Linked DNA regions of Homo sapiens. The protein of the gene in region 1 purifies or fractionates together with the protein of each later gene. This does not show direct contact. Each region holds a gene or a part of one and is shown in the gene's direction. Other genes may lie near its edges.

Region 1 (3,095 bases):
AGTAGGAAAAGCACTGGGTTCAAGCCAGAAGACCTGCCTTTACTGTTATGGCCATCATACCTATCTCTTGATTGTGAGGACCAAATGAGACAATGTACATGAAAGCACATATTAAGCTGCAAAGTGTCATGCTAGGTATTATTTGGGGGTTTAAGGATAATTATCTATAAAGATAGCAAGCAATCATCTATATTTTAAAATCATTTATATAAAGTCATTAGGATCATTTAGGAAAGAGAGGATGGAAACTAACATTTATTAAAAACTAACTATACCAGGTACCTTATTACATTATTTTATTTAATCATCATGTATCCCTATAAGTAATATTCTTCTCTTTTATAGAGTAAGAAATTGAGATTCAGGAATATTAATTTGCCCAGGATCATCGAAGTGGAATGAACATCAAAAGCCTATTCCCTCTGCTTGGCCACTTCCACCTCATTTTACTAAGTTTCCCCATGTCTGTGTTAGTAAACTAATAACTAAAAGGGTCTCGCATTTTAAATAGCTTTTTAACCCAAGAGCATGCCACATTTAACCAGAGGCCCATAGAACAAACTGAAAATTACAACCTAAAAGGTTGTTTCTAAGGTTGTATTGAGAAGGAATTGAGCTCTTGAATCCCTAGAATTCCTTATTAATACTTTATTCTTCTGTTAAAAGTTTTATTTTTAAAAGTTTCATACAGTGTGTATATTGGTGTGATAATCCTACAGAAAAATCAAGCAGTTATGTTTTCTTCACAGATAACACATAAAATATTAAACAGAAAGCCTATGTTATTCATTGGACTGAAGCTTTTATGCAATAAACCTTAGTTGGACCAGGAGTAAATGTATGGTTTGATATTCAGAGAATCTCATTCTTAGAAGCAACAAAGTGTAGTTAACACTAACTTGTTCATTCTTAAATCAGTAGTCCTCTCCTCCCCAAAAAGAGATCTTAAATTATTTTCATTTTAAAGTCATCTACTAACAAGTAAGTTTTTATTCAACTTAATTAAATCTAACACCACAAGACAATTTTGTTTTAGTTATTGTTTTGGTTTGAGTTGAGTTGAAAGATTTCTTTTTTTTCTTCTCAGCTTACCACAGTGCGGAGACTCCTTTCTGAAAAGGCCACTCACGTGAACACTAGGGATGAAGATGAGTATACCCCTCTTCATCGAGCAGCCTACAGTGGACACTTAGATATTGTTCAGGAGCTCATTGCACAGGGGGCCGATGTTCATGCAGTGACTGTGGATGGCTGGACGCCCCTGCACAGTGCTTGTAAGTGGAATAATACCAGAGTGGCTTCTTTCTTACTGCAGCATGATGCAGATATCAATGCCCAAACAAAAGGCCTCTTGACCCCCTTGCATCTTGCTGCTGGGAACAGAGACAGCAAGGATACCCTAGAACTCCTCCTGATGAACCGTTACGTCAAACCAGGGCTGAAAAACAACTTGGAAGAAACTGCATTTGATATTGCCAGGAGGACAAGTATCTATCACTACCTCTTTGAAATTGTGGAAGGCTGTACAAATTCTTCACCTCAGTCTTAACAATTCTAGTAATTTTCCTAAGTTTCTAAATACCAGTGCCTCCTGTGTGTGAGATGTATTCCCATAATCAAAGTTGACGTCAAACATCTTACTACAAAAATTCAGTGACATTCATTATAACATTCTTCCAAGTGAATTGCCTGACTTTGATGTCAAAATGTATTTGAAAGTAATTTGCATATATCTTTAATTATTTCTGTGGAGTTTGTGATTTTTTTATCAGAAATAATTTTAATGTGTGTATACTTAAAAACTTGACACGGGTTGTACAGAAACTGGTATTTTTGGTGCTGATACAAGAGAAATGTATTTTTAAATATCCCACATCCTGGATCTTTGTTGGGTATTTAGTATATTGACATATATTTTTATAAGGTGAGGTAACTCAGAACTTAATTTAAAAGTCTTAAATATTCTGATACAATTCAGCTGTCTTCTCTACCTTACCATAGCCAGTTGCTTTCATTTTAAACCAGAGCAAGTAACATATTAGTGACTTGAATCTTCATAAGTTAAAGTAAAAAACAGCAAAAAACCTAGATCTTTGTCTTTTAGAACACAGACCATTTTCAGGAAAGCAGTTAGCTAAGTGTTTAATTCATGAATATTGTATACTGCATCCCCTACCACAATTTACACAATCCTGTGGATAGTCCTACCTCACCCTGGTCAACCTACATGATCCTTAAGCTAATGGCGAATCACGATGACCTTGTAGACATGCACACAACTATACCTTTGTCCAACAGATCATAATATATCTGCTATCCAACTGGTTTTACCTGCCTAATCCTACTGATTTGGGCACTGCTTGTATAGTCTCTCAAGTTCACAGGAAATGTTGATTTTCTAAGGTCCTCATTTTTACAGAGTATACAGGCAAAGTGACAGGGGAAAAGGAATTAGTCTAAGAGTAAGGGGATGATTATTATATTGAGGCTAAAACCACAAAGTGGCTCAGGCTTTAAAAAAAAAACACTGTGGATAATGACAAAAAGCATAAGTAAAAATATTTGAGAAAAATAAAGTACAAGTTTTGAACAACACAAAAGGCATGAATTCATTTTTTACCTGTGTATGTCTTTCTTGGATCCAGAACATTATTCATCCAGCACGCACTTAGTTATTTAACATCTACTCACTCAGTCTCTCCAGCAGCAATTTTGCATTGTCTATCTAGCCCCCCTGTGATTGTTCCCAAAGTTTTGTCTTCTCAACACCACAACACTCCAGGGGAAGGGAACTAAACCAGTTGCTCTTTACTTCAGTTAAATTTTTAAGATGTCCACCAAGGCTTATCTCTTTCAAGCCATCCTACGTAACCCAGTCACCCTAGACTAAGTAATAATGTTATTTAATCAAAGATTAAATATTTATTTTTGCTTAGAACTTATTAGATCATCTCAGAAAAGTCAGAGATAATATATGAACTGAATCATCGTGACAACAGGATCTTGAGAGTTAGTGCTTTAGTTTATGTTGTGATCTCTTCCTAGGGAGATGCTTTGTGGCAGAGGTTGCTTTCTGTTTAATCTGGCCTAAGTTA
Region 2 (3,500 bases), on another chromosome or scaffold:
CCTGGCCTCAAGTGATCCTCCAGCCTCAGCCCCTGAAAACGTTGGATTAGAGGCCTGAGCCACTGCACCCAGCCTACTTTGGCTCTTAATACAGTTGTTATGAAAGTTTTCATTTCTTTTGGGTAAATTAAATACCTTGTAGTGGAATTGCTAACTCATAGGGCAGATATGTGTTTACTTTTTAAGAAACTGATGGCCAGGCATGGTGGCTCATGCCTGTAATCTCAGCACTTTGGGAGGCTGAGGTGGGTGGATCATTTGAGGTCAGGAGTTCGAGACCAGCCTGATCAACATGGTGAAACCCCATCTCTACTAAAAATTAAAAGAAAAAAAAAATTAGCCAGGCGTGGTGGCACGCACCTGTAATCCCAGCTGCTTGGGAGGCTGAGGCAAGAGAATCACCTGAACCCAGGAGGTGGGAGGTTGCAGTGAGCTGAGACTGGGTCATTGCACTCCAGCCTGGGCAACAAGAGTGAGACTCTGTCTCAAAAAAAAAAAAAGAAACTGCCAGATCTTTTTATGAAGTAGTTATACCATTTTATACTCCCACCAACAGTATATGAGAGTTCCAGTTGCTCCACATCTTCCCCGACACTGCTCTTTAAAATGTGATTTCGATTTGCATGATTTGCATTTCCCTCATGATGAATGATGTACTTTTTCTTGCACTTACGGGCCATTTATATATTTTCCTTTGTGAAGCATCTGTTTGAAGCAACATACCTCCATTTTTGCCCATTAAAAAACATTGGGTCATTTATTTGTATTTATTATTGAATCTTAGAAGTTCTTTTGTATATAAAGAGAACACTCTTTGTCAAATAAATGTTTTGTGAATGTTTTTTCCTAGCTTATGGTGTATCTCTCTCTCTGTCTCTTTTTTTTTTTTTCTGAGGTAGAGTCTTGCTGAGTTGCCCAGGCTGGAGTGCAGTGGCACAATCTCGGTTCACTGTAACCTCCACCTCATGGGTTTAAGTGATTCTCCCTCCTCAGCCTCCTGATTAGTTAGGATTACAGGCATGCACCACCACACCCGGCTAATTATTGTATTTTTATAGTAGAGACAGGGTTTCACCATGTTGGCCAGGCTGGTCTCCAACTCCTGACCTCAAGTGATCCACCCGCCTTGGCCTCCCAAAGTGCTGGGATTACAGGCACAAGCCGCCATGCCTGGCCCCATATCTCTTTTTTTAATAAAAATTTTTAATGGTTGTTGCTTTTCTGCCCAAGTAATTGTCGCCATCCTCATGTCGTGAAGATATTCTCCTTTGCTTTTTTCCAAAAGCTTTATGGTTGACTTTTACATTTAGGTCTAGGATACATTTTAAGCTAAATTTAATGTGTGGTGTGAGTTAGGGGTTGAAGTTAATTTTTTTTCTCCACATAATTATCCAGTTATCCAGACTATCCTGCACCATTTTAAAAAAATTAAGTTTTCTCATTGGATTGCTTTGGCACCTTTGTTAAAAGTCAGTTTACTGACAGTTGGACTTTTAAATTTGCTTTTCTACCACCTTAGTAGCTACACCGGATCATCAGTCCTGGTTCTATTGTTTAACCCATGCTCAATTCAAAAGTCATTTCTTGGCTGGGCACAGTGGTTCATGCCTGTAATACCAGTGCTTTGGGAGGCTGAGTTGGGAGGATTGCTTGAGGCTAGAAGTTTGAGACCAGCCTGGGCAACATGGTGAGATTTGTCGCCTCTACAGAAATAAAAAAATTAGCCAGGCATGGTGGCACAAACTTGTGATCCTAGCTGCCCAGGAGGCTGAGGCAGGAGGATGGCTTGAGTCCAGGAGTTTGAGACTGAGTGAGCTGTGATGGTGCTGCTGCACTTTAGCCTGGGTGATAGAATGAGACCCTGTCTCTGGAAAAAAAGTCATTTCTTTTTAGTTTTATCTGTACCTGAGGGAAGTGACAACCAACTATGGCTGAGAGGGAAACATAGATTTTATTTTTTAAAGTGAAGAAAGATTTGTCATTTTTTAAATTATAAAAATAATATGCTCTCGTTGTAGAAAATTTAGGGAGCATAGAAGGGTATAAATGCTAATAGCACTTATCTACAATCTCCTTCCTTAGAGATAATCACTGTTTAAATTAACATTTTGGTTTATATATCTTAACTTATATGTATTTAAAAATTACAGTATTCATGTGCTTTATCTTTTTAAATATTTAATGAATAGTATGAGTTTTATATAGTCACAATTATCAATCGTTTCACTGTAAAGTGATTTCTGGCTTAGTGGTCATGTTTAGGAAATTCTCTGTTACCAGGATTATATCATCATATACCTGACTTTTTGTTCTCACATGGCTTTATTTTTATTGATATTTTCATTTCATTTGGAATTCTGATGGAAAGTATGAAGTAGGAGTTCAAAGATTATATCAGGAGATTGAGATTTGTCTAGGTATTAAATTTCCCAAAATATTAATTGGGAGTTTCTGTTTACATCTCTTTATTATACTTTCTATTTGGAGAGTGGTGATTGGGGTGAGAAAAAAGGTTTAATGATTAAGGTCTAATGATTATAGGTTAGGTCTCTATTTGGGCCTCTTGAATTTCTTCATGAAAATACTATACAACTATACTTAAAACTCTAATTTGTTAGTGATAAGGATTACTGGTGGAGAGAATGTGGATGACTCAGTGCAACTTACAGCTTTTAAAAATAATAAAAGAACATTTTCCCTTGGTGGACTAGCATATGGAGCTTACTGTTTAATAAATTGATGTGAAATCATGGTGCATTTGGGGCTCAACTAAAACTATACTCACTTTATCCTTAATTGGAGTCATTTTTCTTTCCTCTCATCTGTACTCCTGCCCCCCTTTAAAGTATTATTAAATTATATAGATATTCTTGTAAATTCTGCAGTTAGGTTTTCTAAATGACCCTCACATATCTTTTCAAAAAGCATTTGGGTCACAATACTTAGCATTTCTCTCATTCCCCGCCTTCCCCTTCCGTGTGTGTGTCTGTGTGTGTGTGTGTGTGTGTGTGTGTGTGTGTGTGTGTGTATCAGTCAAAGGGAACTATTTGGATTCATTTTTAGTTCATTGTCAATAATATTTTGGGGAATGTTTCTAAGTCCAGGAATGATTTTATGGTTTGGTACTTCATTTTGGTAAGGTATGGGCTGTTTGTTCAGATATCTAAAGTGCTTTATAATTTTTTTTTGTCATAGGTGATTGACCACTTATATTCAATGTCTGAATTCCTTTATTCTCTAAAAGAGTTTCACCTCAGATTTCTTTAGTTATAAAGCAAGTGATAGACATTTTATTTTCAAGGGATTATAGACTTGGAACAATTTCTAATGTTTAATTATTGAGGTTTCTATGCCATGGAAATGAATTAGCGAAGTGTTCTCTAGCAGTACTTTATTTAGATAGAAACGCGCCAGAGCAGGGCTGGTATTGTCTTAATTACCTGCATGATTGTGTTGACAAATGCTTAATATGCTAAGCATTGCCTTCATATATGCTTCTT
Region 3 (3,500 bases), on another chromosome or scaffold:
TAACTAATAGAATATAATTGGATTGAGCCTATTATATTCAGGCACAGTGGCTCACGTTATAATCCCAGCAGTTGGGGAGACTGTGGCGGGTGGATCACCTGAGGTCAGGAGTTTGAGACCTCCCTGGCCAACATAGTGAAACCCCATCTCTACTAAAAATACAAAAATTAGCCAGGCATGGTGGCAGACACCTATAGTCCCAGCTACTTGTGAGACTGAGGCAGGAGAATTGATTGAACCCAGGAGGCAGAGGTTGCAGTGAGCCAAGATCACACCACTGCACTCCAGCCTAGGTGACAGAGTTGAGACTCCATCTCAAAAAAAAAAAAAAATTATATATATAAGCAAAACTTAGGTATAAAATCTGGCCCTGCTATATTATTCAAGATTCCTAACTATAATTATTTACAGTAAACTTACTTGTTTTTCTTGCTAAATAAATGATGATGAGTGGCTTAGTACCTTTTATGAAAGTTCACATTCACACTTATCTTTATTCATATGTTTTGAAGGGAAGTCGTTGCATATGATGATCCCAAAATTCCACTTTTCAACACAGATGTGGACAACCTAGAAGGGAAGACACCACCAGTTTTTGCTTCTGGTAAGTTTACTCAGTCATCAGCTCTGTGTTGACTTTGAAATGTTTTGTTAAACAAAAACATAATTTTTTTTTGAAAACTGCTCTTACAAGCACTACCACCACCCATGATTTCATTGTTGTGTTTTATGACCTTACTTTCACAATTATGGCTGAAAGTTAGTGATTAAAACCAGTAAATCCTCCTGAAAATAAGTGCATGTTATAGATGGTTGTGATATTAGGTGATGGAGTATTTCTCCCCATCCCCCACAGAGACTTACCAAAGGTGAGTGAAAATTCAGGAAGAGTCTAAAAAATTAAATTGGTTGGGCAGGTGCGGTGGCTCACGCTTGTAATCCCAGCACTTTGGGAGGCCGAGGCGGGCGGATCACGAGGTCAGGAGATCGAGACCACGGTGAAACCCCGTCTCTACTAAAAATACAAAAAATTAGCCGGGTGTGGTGGCGGGTTCCTGTAGTCCCAGCTACTTGGAGAGGCTGAGGCAGGAGAATGGTGTGAACACAGAAGGCGGAGCTTGTAGTGAGCCAAGATCACGCCACTGCACTCCAGCCTGGGTGACAAAACGAGACTCCATCTCAAAAAAAAAAAAAAAAAAATTGGTGGCTGGGCGTGGTGGCTCACACCTGTAATCCCAGCAGTTTGGGAGACCGAGACAAGTGGATCACTTGAGGTCAGGAGTTCCAGACCAGCCTGGCCAACATGACAAAACCCCGTCTCTACTGAAAATACAAAAAAAAAAATTAGGCGGGCGTGGTGGTGGGCACCTGTAATCCCAGCTACTCAGGAGGCTGAGGCAGGAGAATCGCTTCAACCCGGGAGGTGGAGGCTGCAGTGAGCTGAGATTACACCACTGCACTCCAGTCTGGGCAACATAACAAGACTCTGTCTCAAAAAAAAATTAATTAATTAATTAAATTGGCATTCTCATCATCAAATTCTTGTTCTGTTTTTTCCCAGGCCGTAATTTATTATTATTTCTTTAACTTTACATGCGTTTCTCTTTTGTGTTCTTCTGTCATCTGCCTTTTTGTGAAAGTTCCTGGGCAGAATTTCTGTAACCATTCAGCAGGTTCACACTCACAGATCTCTTACTTCCATGGTCTCATTCTCCAAGGCCCCCTAGGAAGTGGAGTCTAAGGAAAGCAGCACAGTTCTTTGTATTTGCTTAGAGATTATGTGACTCTCGCTGGTCTGTCTGCAGCTGCCTTCATTTTCTGACTGTTTTCTTTCTTGCCTTGCAGAAGGCAAATACAGGGCTCTGAAAATGGATTTTTCTCTACCCCCTTCTACTTACGCCACCATGGCCATTCGAGAAGTGCTAAAAATGGATACCAGTATCAAGAACCAGACGCAGCTGAATACAACCTGGCTTCGCTGAGCAGTACCTTGTCCACAGATTAGAAAACGTACACAAGTGTTTGCTTCCTGGCTCCCTGTGCATTTTTGTCTTAGTTCAGACTCATATATGGATTTCAAATCTTTGTAATAAAAATTATTTGTATTTTTAAGTTTTTATTAGCTTAAAGAAATAATTTGCAATATTTGTACATGTACACAAATCCTGAGGTTCTTAATTTTAGCTCAGAATATAAATTAGTCAAAATACACTTCAGGTGCTTAAATCAGAGTAAAATGTCAGCTTTACAATAATAAAAAAAGGACTTTGGTTTAAAGTAGCAGGTTTAGGTTTTGCTACATTCTCAAAAGACAGCAGGAGTATTTGACACATCTGTGATGGAGTATACAACAATGCATTTTAAGAGCAAATGCAACAAAACAAATCTGGACTATGGATAAATAATTTGAGAGCTGCCACCCACAAATATAAATACAGTACTCATGCTGACTGAAATAATAAGACATCTACAAATTTATAAACAAAAAGTGATTGTCATTATCCTGCTTATGTACTAGATTCAGGCAAGCATTATAGACTTTTTGGTTGCGGTGGCTTTTGCATTTATATTATCAATGCCTTGCAGGAACGTTGCATTGATAGGCCCATTTTATTTTTTTATTTTTTTTTTCGAGACAGGATCTCACTCTGTAGCACAGGCTGGATTGCAGTGCAATCCTGCAATTCTCAATCTTGCACTGCAGCCTCGACCTCCCAGGCTCCAGTGACTCTCCCACCTCAGCCTCCTAAGTAGCTGGGAGTACAGGCGCGCACCACCACGCCTAGCTGATTTTTGTATTTTTTTGTAGAGACGGGGGTTTGGCCATGTTGCCGAGGCTAACTCCTGGGATTACAGGCATGAGCTGTGCTGGCCGGGTTTTTTTTTCTTGATGTAAACGTGTACAGCTGTTTTATTAGTTAAGGTCTAATTTTTACTCTAGGTGCCTTTTATGTTCAGAACTCTTTCCACTGGACTGGTATTTGCTCAAAAATAAATAATGGTAGAGAAGAAAACTATAAAAATGGACAAGGCTTTCTTCTATCAGTAGCGTTTACCCTTTGTCACCAGTGGCTTTGGTATTTCCATGTCTGGCATTGCATAAACTTCTCTGGTGTGAAAGGATAAATATGCCTTTCTAAAGTTGTATATCAAAATTGTATCAATTTTTATTTTCTATGATTTCTAGAAACAAATGTAATAAATATTTTTAAAATCTCCTTTCTACTGGTTATGTAAATAAATCAAATAAATATATCAAAATGAGTGCAGATAAGAATCTTGACCTTGACTAAAGGTAAGGAACTAAATGAATGTGGGATCCTCATCAGAAATGGTGGTGACACCAAAATGTGTTGTGATCAGCTGTGAAGTATGAGGATAATCTGAGTCAAATGCTACGAATAATTGACTGTGTTGGACTGGACTCCAGGTTATTGGAATCACTCACTCACCTTCCAATGTGCTTTATGGAGTAGAAAAGAAAGGAATGGAAAAGAGCT
Region 4 (3,500 bases), on another chromosome or scaffold:
GAGCAGACAGGCTGTTTCTTTGACACAAATATCACAGGCTTCAGGGTTAAGATTGCTGTTTTTCTGTCCTTGCTTTGGCACAACACACTGAGGGTTTTTTTTATTGCGGGTTTGCCTACAGGTAGATTAGATTAATTATTACTATGTAATGCAAGTACAGTTGGGGGAAAGCTTAGGTAGATATATTTTTTTTAAAAGGTGCTGCCTTTTTGGATTTATAAGAAAATGCCTGTCAGTCGTGATAGAACAGAGTTTTCCTCATATGAGTAAGAGGAAGGGACTTTCACTTTCAAGTGGAACAGCCATCACTATCAAGATCAGCTCATGGAAGGAGTAAAGAAAATATCTCAAAATGAGACAAACTGAAGTTTTGTTTTTTTTTTAATGACTTAAGTTTTTGTGCTCTTGCAAGACTATACAAAACTATTTTAAGAAAGCAGTGATATCACTTGAACTTCAGTGCCCTCACTGTAGAATTTAAAAGCCTTACTGTTGATTGCCCATGTTGGACTTGATGGAGAAATTAAATATCTTTCATTATGCTTTACAAAATACTGTATATGTTTCAGCAAGTTTGGGGAATGGGAGAGGACAAAAAAAAGTTACATTTAATCTATGCATTTTTGCCAAGCCATATTGAGTTATTTTACTACTAGAGACATTAGGAAACTAACTGTACAAAAGAACCAAGTTTAAAAGCATTTTGTGGGGTACATCATTTCTATAATTGTATAATGTATTTCTTTGTGGTTTTAAATGATAAAGACATTAAGTTAACAAACATATAAGAAATGTATGCACTGTTTGAAATGTAAATTATTCTTAGAACACTTTCAATGGGGGTTGCATTGTCCTTTTAGTGCCTTAATTTGAGATAATTATTTTACTGCCATGAGTAAGTATAGAAATTTCAAAAAATGTATTTTCAAAAAATTATGTGTGTCAGTGAGTTTTTCATTGATAATTGGTTTAATTTAAAATATTTAGAGGTTTGTTGGACTTTCATAAATTGAGTACAATCTTTGCATCAAACTACCTGCTACAATAATGACTTTATAAAACTGCAAAAAATGTAGAAGGTTGCACCAACATAAAAAGGAAATATGGCAATACATCCATGATGTTTTCCAGTTAACATAGGAATTACCAGATAAATACTGTTAAACTCTTGTCCAGTAACAAGAGTTGATTCATATGGACAGTATGATTTATTGTTTATTTTTTTAACCAAATACCTCCTCAGTAATTTATAATGGCTTTGCAGTAATGTGTATCAGATAAGAAGCACTGGAAAACCGATCGTCTCTAGGATGATATGCATGTTTCAAGTGGTATTGAAAGCCGCACTGATGGATATGTAATAATAAACATATCTGTTATTAATATACTAATGACTCTGTGCTCATTTAATGAGAAATAAAAGTAATTTATGGATGGGTATCTTTAATTTTTACTGCAATGTGTTTTCTCATGGCTGAAATGAATGGAAAACATACTTCAAATTAGTCTCTGATTGTATATAAATGTTTGTGAAATTCCATGGTTAGATTAAAGTGTATTTTTAAAAGATAAAACGTGGTCTTGGGCTCTAAAACAAGAGTGGGAATAGTTCACATGAAAAGCTGGCTAAAGTGTGTTGGAAAACAATTCTCCATGGGTCTCTTGCATTTCTACACATCAGGGAAGCAGAGGCTCTGACAACCTTTCTTTTGACTATCTTTTCCAAGGATATTTATGTAGTAAACAGCCTTGGAAGATAGAGTTCTCCCTTGTGAGGATGTCGGGTTCTTTTACTGTCCAGTATAATAAAGATAACGTCTCCCACCTATGATGCAAACCCACTGTGTGCTCAGCACCCACCTGGGCCACTCTGCATTGCCCACATGGGGCTTGGAGGGCAAAGGGAACTGATGGAACGTGAAACTTATGCTGCTTTTGCTGTGCTGTGAATGAAGTCATCTGACTCTGACCCAGGGGTCTCATCTCTTTTGTCAGGATCCATGAAACTGTGACTGGCAGCATGCAAACAGGATAAAATCTCAGCACAGTTCCTGACGGTGTCCTTACTACCTTCTCAGACTCATCACCATTACCTAATATTTTAAGGTCCAGTTGCAGAGAACAGAGTTAATTCTAATTAGTTTAAGCAAGAGAAGACTTTCCAAATGACATACTAATCTGAACTTAGAATTGTTGAGAACTGAGAGAGCTTTGAGGAATCACTCCCAATGCCACATTACAGAACTGGGTCAACCAGGAGAGCTGCTTCCTCTTCTAAGTTCAGGAAACCACTCACTCCCAAGTATACCAATATTGAGAGGGTCCAGATAGTGCCATAATCAGGAATCCACACTACCACTGCTGGTTCTCTGCAACACTTGTCAGGCTTGCTACAATCTACCTCCAGTTAGATGTTTTGTACCATTCCTCTTGCCACTTAAGAACCTCATGTCTGCACACTGCCTCAGAAAAGGCACTTCCATGACCCTGCTTGCTGGCATTTAGCACAGCCTGCATCTCACGTCTGCCTTCTCTAGGTGCATCTACGTGGCCAAAATTAAATCACATCCAGACCCCTAGCTGCAAGAAAGTCTGAGAAATATAGCCTCTAGCTTTCTCTCTAATTTGTTACAGGAGGACACACTAGGAGTGTGGAATGAAGGTTCAGCATTGAGTTAGCCCATGCACCCACACCTGTAAGCTTCTCTGAGATCAGGAACTCCAGCTTTGGGCAACAAAGAAAACATAGCCACTGTCATTATTCACAGGTTCACTCATGACCTGTCATTTGGGGTTTCAGCTTAAATTAACCCATTCACCCTTCATTTAAAGTAAAAAAAATAAGTAAAAGAACTTAAATGACAAACTCATAGTTACTTGAGTTTGTAATTCATAGTTAACTTTCACAGTTCTATAATCAATCTGGAATTCAGAGTGAGGTAGAGATCAAGCAGTATTTCTCCCATATGGATATTCAGTTGATACTGCAGTATTCATTGAAAATACTTCTTTCCTGCATCGTAATTCAGGTGAACAATCCATTGGTGTTATTTCTGTGTCCTTGCCAATATCACACTTTTAATTACTGTAACTTTATAATAAGATTTTATATCTGTAGTAGAAGTCCAACTTTGTAATCCCTCCCAATTGGCTTGGCTATTCTTGGCCTTTTGCATTTCCATATAATTTTTTATTTTTGTTTTGAAACGAAGTTTCGCTCTTGTTGCCCAGGCTGGAGTGCAGTGGCGCGATCTCGGCTCACTGCAACCTCCGCCTCCCAGGTTCAAGTGATCCTCCTGCCTCAGACTCCCGAGTAGCTGGGATTACAGGTGCCCACCACCATGCCCAGCTAATTTTTGTATTTTTAGTAGAGACAGGGTTTCACCATGTTGGCCAGCCTGGTCTTGAACTCCTGACCTCAGGTGATCCACACCCACCTTGGCCTCCCAAAGTGCTGGGATTACAGGCATGAGCCACCGCGCCTGGTTGCATTCCCATAT
Region 5 (2,185 bases), on another chromosome or scaffold:
TAATCCCAGCACTTTGAGAGGCCAAGGCAGGTGGATCACTTGAGGCCAAGAGTTCAAGACCAGACTGGCCAACATGGCAAAACCCTGTCTCTACTAAAAATACAAAAATTAGCCAGGTATCATGGCACACACCTCTAATCCTAGCTACTCAGAAGGCTGAAGCATGAGAATCACTTGAACCTGGGAAGCAGAGATAGCAGTTAGCCGAGATCACGCCACTGCACTCCAGCATGGGCAACAGAATGGGACTCTGTCTCAAAATAATAATAATAATAATTTTAAAAATTTCAACTCTGAATCAAATGTGTGTTAGGACTTTTGCACTCTCTGATTCTGGCCATAACAGCTGGGTAAATATCAGGGAGTCCTGATGGTTGAATGTATTCACCAAGACCATTTTGGCTTGATCTTAATCTTTTTTTCCCCCCTTTTCTCTCATTTAGATAAGAAAGGAGGTATTCGAACTTCTGGAAATGGGAGTGCTCAGTCTGTGCAAGTCAGAATCCTTGAAACTGGGCCTTTTCTAAGTCTGTGTCCTAATGAAGATTCCAGTTTTCACAGTAGAAGTTGCATCTTATTTAATGACTCTGATACATTGCAAGCACTCAGTAAATATCAGCAAATAGTTTATGTTAATTGTGTCAACAGATGGATCACTGGAATGTGGGGATTCTGAAACAGAAATGAAACTGTCCTTTTGACAACTCTCTTATATAATAAAGTATCACCGGCTTGTGTATGATCCTTGTTGAGCGGACCGTGTTTTTCTGTCACCAACTGGCTTCTGATGTAACTGTGCAGGAGAAAGGAAAGAGCAGCTGGGTGACCTTAGGCAAGCGTAAGGTCTTGCCTCTCTGAGCCCCATCTTATCAACTCAAAGTGGGAATGTCTCACAGCATTGTTGAGGATTCCAGGAGATAGTACATGGGGAGCAGATTTGTAAACTCTGAGGCATGGTCCCAGCAAAAAGGGTGGCAGGTATATTAATCCATTCTCACATTGCTATAAAGAACTACCCGAGACTGGGTAGATTATAAAGAAAAGAGGTTTAATTGACTCACAGTTTCACAGGCTGTACAGGAGGCATGGCTGAGAGGCCTCAGGAAACTTGGCAGAAGGTGAAGGGGAAGCAAGCACATCTTCACATGGCGACAAGAGAGCAAGAGAGTGAAGGGAGAAATGCCACACACTTTTAAACGACTAGATCTTGTGAGAACTCACTCCCTATCATGAGAACAGCAGAACAGCAAGGGGAAAATCTGTCCCTATGATCCAGTCACCTTCCACCAGGTCCCTCCCCCAACATTGGGAATTATAATTCAACATAAGATTCGGGTGGAGACACAGAGCCAAACCATGTCAATTCCACCCCGGCCTCTTCCAAATTTCATGTTCTTCTCACATTTCAAAACACAATCATGCCTTCTCAACAGTCCCCCAAAGTCTTAACTCATTCCAGCATTAACTGAAAAGTCCAACTCCAAAGTCTGATCTGAGACAAGGCAACTTCCTTCCACCTATGAGCCTGTAAAATAAAAAACAAGTTAGTCATTTCCAAGATACAATGGAGGTACAGGCATTGGGTAAATGCTCCCATTCCAAGTGGGAGAAACTGGCCCAAAGGAGCTAAAGGCCTCATGCCAGTTTGAAACCCAGCAGGGCACTCTTTGAATCTTAAAGCTCCAAAATAATCTTTGACTCCATGTCTCACATCCAGGCCACTCTGATGCAAGGAGTGGGCTCCCAAGGCCTTAGGCAGCTCTGCCCCTGTGGCTCTGCAGGGTACAGTCCCCATGGTTGCTTTCACAGGCTGGTGTTGAGTGCCTACAGCATATCCAGGTACACAGTGTAAGCTGTCAGTGGATCTACCATTCTGGGGTCTGGAGGATGATGGCTCTCTTCTCACAGCTCCACTAGGCAGTGCCCCAGTGGGGACTCTGTGTAGGGTCTCCAACCCCACATTTCCCCTCTGCACTGCCCTAGTAGAGGCTCTCCATGAGGGCTTCACCCCTGTAGCAGACTTCTGCCTGGACATCCAGGCGTTTCCATACATCCTCTGAAATTGAGGCAGAGGCTCCCAAACCTCAGCTCTTGCCTTCTGCACACCCATAAGCCCAACAGCACGTGGAAGCTGCCAAGGCTTGGGGCTTGCACCCTCTGAAGCAATGGTTCAGCTGTACCTTGG
Region 6 (3,500 bases), on another chromosome or scaffold:
ACCTAAAATATTTATCATCTGACCCTTTAAGAAAAAGTTTGCTGATACTTGCTCTTATGCGATTAGTCCCCCACTGTATTGTGTGTATCATATGTATATACATCTTTCTAATTCTGGTGTAGACCTTTGTGCTTCATCTTTGTTGGATGTATTTGGATACCTGTATATTCTTTAAAAATACATAGCATTGTTTCATATGTGTATTTTTGTGTTTAAACAAAACTTAAATATGTGGGCCGGGCGTGGTGGCTCACGCCTGTAATCCCAGCACTTTGGGAGGCCGAGACGGGCGGATCACGAGGTCAGGAGATCGAGACCATCCTGGCTAACATGGTGAAACCCCGTCTCTACTAAAAGTACAAAAAATTAGCCGGGCATGGTGGTGGGCGCCTGTAGTCCCAGCTACTCGGGAGGCTGAGGCAGGAGAATGGTGTGAACCCAGGAGGCGGAGCTTGCAGTGAGCCGAGATCGCACCACTGCACTCCAGCCTGGGCGACAGAGTGAGACTCCATCTCAAAAAAACCAAACAAACAAACAAAAAAAAAACAAAAAAAAAATATGTACAGTATTTTGCCAGAACCTCTTTGTATTCTCTGTGGTTCAACTTTGGTTTTTTAATTTGGGGTTTTTTGCTTTTTTGTTTTTTTGAGACGGACTCTCGCTCTGTCGCCAGGCTGGAGTGCAATGGTGCAATTTCAGCTCACTACAACCTCTGCCTCCCAGGTTCAAGCAATTCTCCTGCCTCAGCCTCCTGAGCAGCTGGGATTACAGGCGCCTGCCACCACGCCTGGCTAATTTTTCTATTTTAAGTAGAGACGGGTTTCACCATGTTGGCCAGGTTGGTCCCAAACTCCTGACCTCAAGTAATCCGCCTGCCTTGGCCTCCCAAAGTGCTGGGATGACAGGCATGAACCACCGTGCCTGGCCCAACCTTGTTTTGAGAACCCTCCATGTATCTGTAAATATAAATAGAATTATTACCTTTGACTCATGCATTGCATTTTCTTATTTGCAGTGAGTACCTTTATCTACATATTTTCTGGGTGATAAATACCCAGATTGTTTCCAACTTTATTTTTTCTAATTGTTTTTTAAATTTTCAAATATAAAACACATACAGAGAAGTATATAAAACATAAATGTACAGTGTATGAATAAATATAAAGCTAACACTCTTGTGAGAACCACTCTGCAAAACACAGCTTTGCCAAGACCCCAGCAGACCTCTCTGCAGCTCTTCCCATCCTCTTCCTCCTGTCCCTCTAAAGGTAATGACTCTCCTACTTTTGCTTTTCTTACCACTTGTCTAGTCATTCATAAACAGTTTTTCCTTTATTATTATTTTTGAGATTTTTTTTCCAGAGACAAAATCTCACTATGTCACCGAAGCTGGAGTGCAGTGTCATGATCTCAGCTCACTGGAGCCTTGACCTCCCAGGCTCAAGCAATCCTCCCACCTCAGCCTCCTGAGAAGCTGGGACCACAGGCATATGCCATCATGCCCAGCTAATTTTTTTTCTTTCTTTTTTTTGTTTGTTTTGGAGAGATGGGAGTTTGCTATGTCAACCTAGGCTGATAGGTCTCAAATTCCTGGGATCAAATGATCTTCCCACCTCGGCCTCCCAAAGTGGTGGGATTTTAGGCATGAGCCATCGTACCCACGCTTTTTCCTTTTTTAGAGATGGTGGGGGGTCTCATTGTTGCCCAGGCTGGATTTGAACTTTTGGGCTCAAGGGATCTTATCTCAGCCTCCCAAATAGCTGGGATTACAGGCATGTGCCACTGCACCAGCCTCTAACATTTTGAGTGTTATGGAAACAGCATGATAAAGTATCTATTTTCGTGTGTCTTGTTTCTTTTGCTCAGCATTATGTTTGTAAAATGCATCCATGTTGTCCTTGGAGTTACCCATTCCTTTCCATTGCTCTCTCTGCTGTATTTTGCTGCATATTCATCACATGGCTAAGTGTAGTTTATTTTTCTGGTTCTCCTGTAGATATTGAGGTTGTCCACAGTTAGGGCCAATAGGAACAATGCCCCTGTGAGCATTCTTGTTCAGAATCCACATCAACATGTACATGAGTTTTCCTAGGATATATTCTTGGAAGGGAAGTGGCTGGGTCTTAGGGTATGTATGTTTTGACCTATATTAGCTGATGCTAAACTATTTGCTGAAATGGTAGTTGTACCAATTTATATTCCCACCAGAAACAGGAGTTTTGTTTTTTGGAGTTTTTTTTGTTTGTTTGTTTGTTTTTTTGAGACGGAATTTCGCTTCTCTTGACTAGGCTGGAGTGCAGTGGCGCAATCTCGGCTCACTGCAGCCTCTGCCTCCTGGTTTCAAGCGATTCTCCTGCCTCAGCCTCCCAAGTAGCTGGGATTACAGGCATGCGCCACCACATCTGGCTAATTTTGTATTTTTAGTAGAGACTAGGGTTCTCCATGTTGGTCAGGCTGGTCTTCAACTCCCGATCTCAGGTGATCCGCCCGCCTCGGCTTGCCAAAGTGTTGGGATTACAGGCGTGAGCCACTGTGCCCGGCCTGCTCCTTTTTTTATTATTATTATTATTTTGTAAGACACGGTTTCAATCTGTCGCCCAGGCTGGAATGCAGTGATGTAATCTCGGTTTACTTCTACTTTTGTCTCCTGGGCTCCAGTGATCCTCCCACCTCAGCCTCCTGAGTAGCTGGGACTACAGTCACATGCCACCACATCCAGCTAATTTTTGTTGTTGTTGTTTCCTTATTTTGTTTTGTTTTTTCGAGACAGAGTCTCACTCTGTTGCTCAGTCTGGAGTACAGTGGTGCGATCTAAGCTCACTGCAACCTCTGCCTCCCGGGTTCAAGCAATTCTCCTGCCTCAGCCTCCAGAGTAGTTGGGATTACAGGCACACACCACCAGGCCCGGCTAATTTCTGTATTTTTAGTAGAGACAGGGTTTTACCATGTTGGCCAGGATGGTCTTGATCTCCTGAGCTCGTGTTCTGCCCACCTCCGCCTTCCGAAGTGCTGGGATTACAGGCGTGAGCCACTGCGCCCAGGCTCGCCTAAAATTTCATGCACCTACATTTTTTTTTTTGAGACAGGGTGTCACTCTGAGGCTGGAGTGCAGTGACGTAATCTTGGCTCACTGCAGCCTCCGCCTCCTGGGTGCAAGCAGTTCTGGTGCCTAGCCTCCCAGTAGCTGAAACTACAGGTGCATGCTGCCACACCCAGCCTAATTTTTGTATTTTTTGGTAGAGACGGGGTTTCATGATGTTGGCCAGGCTGGTGTTGAACTCCTGACCTCAAGTGATTTGCCCATCTAGGCCTCCCAAAGTGCTGGGGTAACAGGTGTGAACCACTGTGCTCAGCCTCATGCACCGACTTCTTACTGTTTTCTCCTACATTTGTTTTTCTTTTTGCTAGAATACATCCTTCAAGAGTTTTGTCAAAGAGAGCTTCTGTGGGGAAAACTTTCTGAAAATATCTTTGTTTCACTTTCATGTTGAAAATTGATG
Region 7 (3,500 bases), on another chromosome or scaffold:
TCAAGGAGTCCTCCAGACTCTGCCTCCTGAGTATCAGGGACTGCAGGCGCATGTCAATGTGCCTGGCTGATTTTTGTATTTTTTGGTAGAGATGAGGTTTTACAGTGTTGCCCAGCCTGATCTGGAACTCCTGGGCTCAAGCAATCCACCTGCCTCAGCCTCCCAAAGTGCTGGGATTACAGGCATCAGCCACTGCGCCTGGCCTAACCAATGTTCTTATATTTCAGATTGTCCATGTTTTCATTTTGTTAAGGTAATTCATAAGTTATAGCCATTTATTTCAGTTGCATAGTTCTTAAAATCACATTATTTTCTAAAATGACTGCATTAGGTAATAAGAAACTTGAGACAACTGTGTGAGTATCCTGAGAAATAGATTCCCAAGTTACTAAAGATGATTTATTAAATTAATATTAAATGGTCTTGCACTTAACATTGTTTTGATTTAATTGGTATTTTTAAATAACTAGACTCAAAGATGAAGTGTCTGAAATGTTGATTATGTATCTTCAGTGGGTCATCGCCAGAGAGCGGTTTCAGCAAGCTGCAGATCTGATTGATGCTGAGCAACGAATGAAGAAGTCCATGTGGGGTCAGTTCTGGTCTGCTCACCAGAGGTTCTTCAAATACTTATGCATAGCATCCAAAGTTAAAAGGGTTGTGCAACTAGCTCGAGAGGAAATCAAGAATGGAAAAGTAAGTAGAAGAACTCATTAAGAGATTGTTTGGGGGTTATGTTGTTTAGTCTTTGTGGGTGCTGAGGTTTTCTGCTTGTAAAATCTGGTTTTCCTAAAGGATAGTAAAACTTCTAAAAAATACATTTCTTAAAATTATAAAAGCAATGCCTGCTTAGAGAATTTAGAGAGTTCAGAAAAGTATAACAAAGTAAACATCACTATAATTGGTCATCCATAGCTGGTAGCACTGGTAACATATGGATGTGTATTGCGTTAAGGTTTTTTCTTTTCGGTGAATATTTATCTACTTAAAGCATAAGATACTATAAACTGTACAAGGGCAGGGGCTTCACTCATGCTTACTACTGTCTGTAATCCTATCTCCTGCCTAAATTTTTGACAAATAACCTGTCTCAAATATGTAGAAGAAATAAGTAAAACAAATTTGTGTTTTATAATAATGAGGACATTCTTGTTTGAAATCTTTGTTTAGCTAAATGTTTAAAATATGTCTTGGTAAGAAGCCACAAACATTATTATTCATAATTAACATGTTTTCTTTTTTCTCCAGTGTGTTGTAATTGGTCTGCAGTCTACAGGAGAAGCTAGAACATTAGAAGCTTTGGAAGAGGGCGGGGGAGAATTGAATGATTTTGTTTCAACTGCCAAGTAATGTTTTTGTTCTTTTAATGTTTTTGTTTCTTTTTGAGTTCTTCCTTACCTTAGTTCCAATGTGGGCATTTCCTGGAGACAAAACTTTTGTTTCACCTGCATCATCTTTAAGTTTTCTTGATCTGAGTTTTCTGCTTTTCTGTAACAGTGTATCTATTGGAAAACAATAACAGAAATCTCATAATCCTAAAATGTTAAGCATTTTGCTAATATTACACAGAGTATGTGAACTAACAGAAGGGCTAGACTTTGTTTATCTTGTACATCTTGGAAATCTGTGACAGCTTGGCTTAGATTCAGTTTTAGTGTACTGTATTTGAAATTACCGTTATCCACAGGAACAGTAACTATAGTTTGTCCTAATATAACGAAGTCTACTTTATAAGTTGGCTGAGCATGGTGGCTCACAGCTGTAATCTCAGCACTTTGGGAGGCCAACATGGGCACATCACTTGAGGTCAGTAGTTTGAGACCAGCCTGGCCAAAATGGTGAAACCCCATCTCAACTAAAAATAAAAAAAATTAGTTGGGCATGGTGGCACACGTCCTGTAGTCCCACCTACCTGGGAGGCTGAGGCAGGAGAATCCATTGAACCCGTGAGGTGGAGGTTGCAGTGAGCCAAGATCGCACCACTCCACTCCACTCCCCTCTGGGCGGCAGAGTGAGACCCTGTCTCAAAAAAAAATAAAATAAAATAAAGTCTACTTTAAAAGTTGAAAATAAGCATGAGATCTTCAGAAATAGATTTTAAAATGTTTTAGGCATTGTTTTTAGTTTGCCTAACCTCCACATTCAAACTCTGGTAGTAAACTGAGCAAAATAAACTTGCTGCTCTACTATTTTGTGCCTCGGGATGCATTCAGATGCTCCTTTCAAAAGCAATACATGGGGCTCACGCCTGTAATCCAGGCACTTTGGGAGGCTGAGTCTGGTGGATCACGAGAGCTCAGGAGTTTGAGACCAGCCTGGCCAACACGGTGAAACCTCGTCTCTACTAAAAATACAAAAACTAGCCAGGCGTGGTGGCGGGCACCTGTAATCCCAGCTACTGGAGAGGCTGAGGCAGGAGAATTGCTTGAACCCAGGCGGCGGAGGTTGCAGTGAGCTGAGATGGCACCATTGCACTCCAGCCTGGGTGACAGAGAGACTCGGTCTCAAAAAAAAAAAAAAAAAGAAAAAAGCAAGACATACACCTGCTAATCTATATTTTTCTGTACATAATTGCCTAGAACTACCGTGTCCAGAATGGCAGCCGCTTGTCACATGTGGCTATTGAGCAGTTGAAATGACTGGTCCATATTGAGATGTTATTATATGTGTACTGAGCCAGGTTTCAAAGACTCCTTAAGAGAAAATAACATAAAACATATGTGTTGACATGGTATATTGAGTTAAAATGTATTATTAAAATTAGTTCCACCAGTTTTATTTATTTTTTACTTTTTTAATTTAAGCTACCAGAAAATACAATAATTGTGTATGTGGTTTGGCTTGCATTCTTATTATTTAGTTGGACAGCTTTGGGCTAGAAAATTAAAATTTATTTGAGCTCGTTTATCAGTATTTTGTAAAACTGAACAAAGTATATTTCAATATATTTAATAATACTTTACATATAATTATTTTGTCAACTGAAGCAGTAATTGTCACTGTTTCTCTCCTACAGAGGTGTGTTGCAGTCACTCATTGAAAAACATTTTCCTGCTCCAGACAGGAAAAAACTTTATAGTTTACTAGGAATCGATTTGACAGCTCCAAGTAACAACAGTTCGCCAAGAGATAGTCCTTGTAAAGAAAATAAAATAAAGAAGCGGAAAGGTGAGCACTTTAAAAAAGAAAAAATAGGCCAGGTGCGGTGGCTCACACCTGTAATCCCAGCACTTTGGGAGGCTGAGGTGGGCAGATCACGAGGTCAGGAGATCGAGACCATCCTGGCTAACACGGTGAAACCCCATCTCTACTGAAAATACAAAAAATTAGCCGGGCATCGTGGTGGGCACCTATAGTCCCAGCTACTCGGGAGGCTGAGGCAGGAGAATGTCGTGAACCCAGGAGGCAGAGCTTGCAGTGAGCCGAGATAGCGCTGCTGCACTCCAGCCTGGATGACAGAGCGAGACTCTGTCTCAAAAAAGAAAAAGAAAAAAGAAAAT

What was found.
Region 2: the proteins of ANKRD49 (region 1) and ROCK2 purify together in Homo sapiens (affinity purification with mass spectrometry; one large-scale study listed by BioGRID and IntAct). This does not show direct contact.
Region 3: the proteins of ANKRD49 (region 1) and PUS7 purify together in Homo sapiens (affinity purification with mass spectrometry; one large-scale study listed by BioGRID and IntAct). This does not show direct contact.
Region 4: the proteins of ANKRD49 (region 1) and ROCK1 purify together in Homo sapiens (affinity purification with mass spectrometry; one large-scale study listed by BioGRID and IntAct). This does not show direct contact.
Region 5: the proteins of ANKRD49 (region 1) and CMSS1 purify together in Homo sapiens (affinity purification with mass spectrometry; one large-scale study listed by BioGRID and IntAct). This does not show direct contact.
Region 6: the proteins of ANKRD49 (region 1) and BCL7B purify together in Homo sapiens (affinity purification with mass spectrometry; one large-scale study listed by BioGRID and IntAct). This does not show direct contact.
Region 7: the proteins of ANKRD49 (region 1) and SBNO1 purify together in Homo sapiens (affinity purification with mass spectrometry; one large-scale study listed by BioGRID and IntAct). This does not show direct contact.

What each region holds. Positions count from the first base shown.
Region 1 is NC_000011.10:94,496,984-94,500,078, forward strand, and holds the end of ANKRD49 (ankyrin repeat domain-containing protein 49), read left to right. Parts: intron 1-1,087; coding exon 1,088-1,549; 3' UTR 1,550-2,595; downstream 2,596-3,095. UniProt on the Homo sapiens protein: Induces HBG1 expression. May have a role in spermatogenesis where it promotes autophagy in response to serum starvation, via the NF-kappaB pathway.
Region 2 is NC_000002.12:11,334,637-11,338,136, reverse strand, and holds part of ROCK2 (rho-associated protein kinase 2), read left to right. Parts: intron 1-3,500. UniProt on the Homo sapiens protein: Protein kinase which is a key regulator of actin cytoskeleton and cell polarity.
Region 3 is NC_000007.14:105,456,272-105,459,771, reverse strand, and holds the end of PUS7 (pseudouridylate synthase 7 homolog), read left to right. Parts: intron 1-512; coding exon 513-604; intron 605-1,845; coding exon 1,846-1,982; 3' UTR 1,983-3,269; downstream 3,270-3,500. UniProt on the Homo sapiens protein: Pseudouridylate synthase that catalyzes pseudouridylation of RNAs.
Region 4 is NC_000018.10:20,947,814-20,951,313, reverse strand, and holds part of ROCK1 (rho-associated protein kinase 1), read left to right. Parts: 3' UTR 1-3,500. UniProt on the Homo sapiens protein: Protein kinase which is a key regulator of the actin cytoskeleton and cell polarity.
Region 5 is NC_000003.12:100,177,862-100,180,046, forward strand, and holds part of CMSS1 (protein CMSS1), read left to right. Parts: intron 1-443; coding exon 444-527; 3' UTR 528-2,185.
Region 6 is NC_000007.14:73,547,691-73,551,190, reverse strand, and holds part of BCL7B (B-cell CLL/lymphoma 7 protein family member B), read left to right. Parts: intron 1-3,500. UniProt on the Homo sapiens protein: Positive regulator of apoptosis. Plays a role in the Wnt signaling pathway, negatively regulating the expression of Wnt signaling components CTNNB1 and HMGA1.
Region 7 is NC_000012.12:123,323,348-123,326,847, reverse strand, and holds part of SBNO1 (protein strawberry notch homolog 1), read left to right. Parts: intron 1-513; coding exon 514-696; intron 697-1,248; coding exon 1,249-1,346; intron 1,347-3,016; coding exon 3,017-3,168; intron 3,169-3,500. UniProt on the Homo sapiens protein: Plays a crucial role in the regulation of neural stem cells (NSCs) proliferation. Enhances the phosphorylation of GSK3B through the PI3K-Akt signaling pathway, thereby upregulating the Wnt/beta-catenin signaling pathway and promoting the proliferation of NSCs.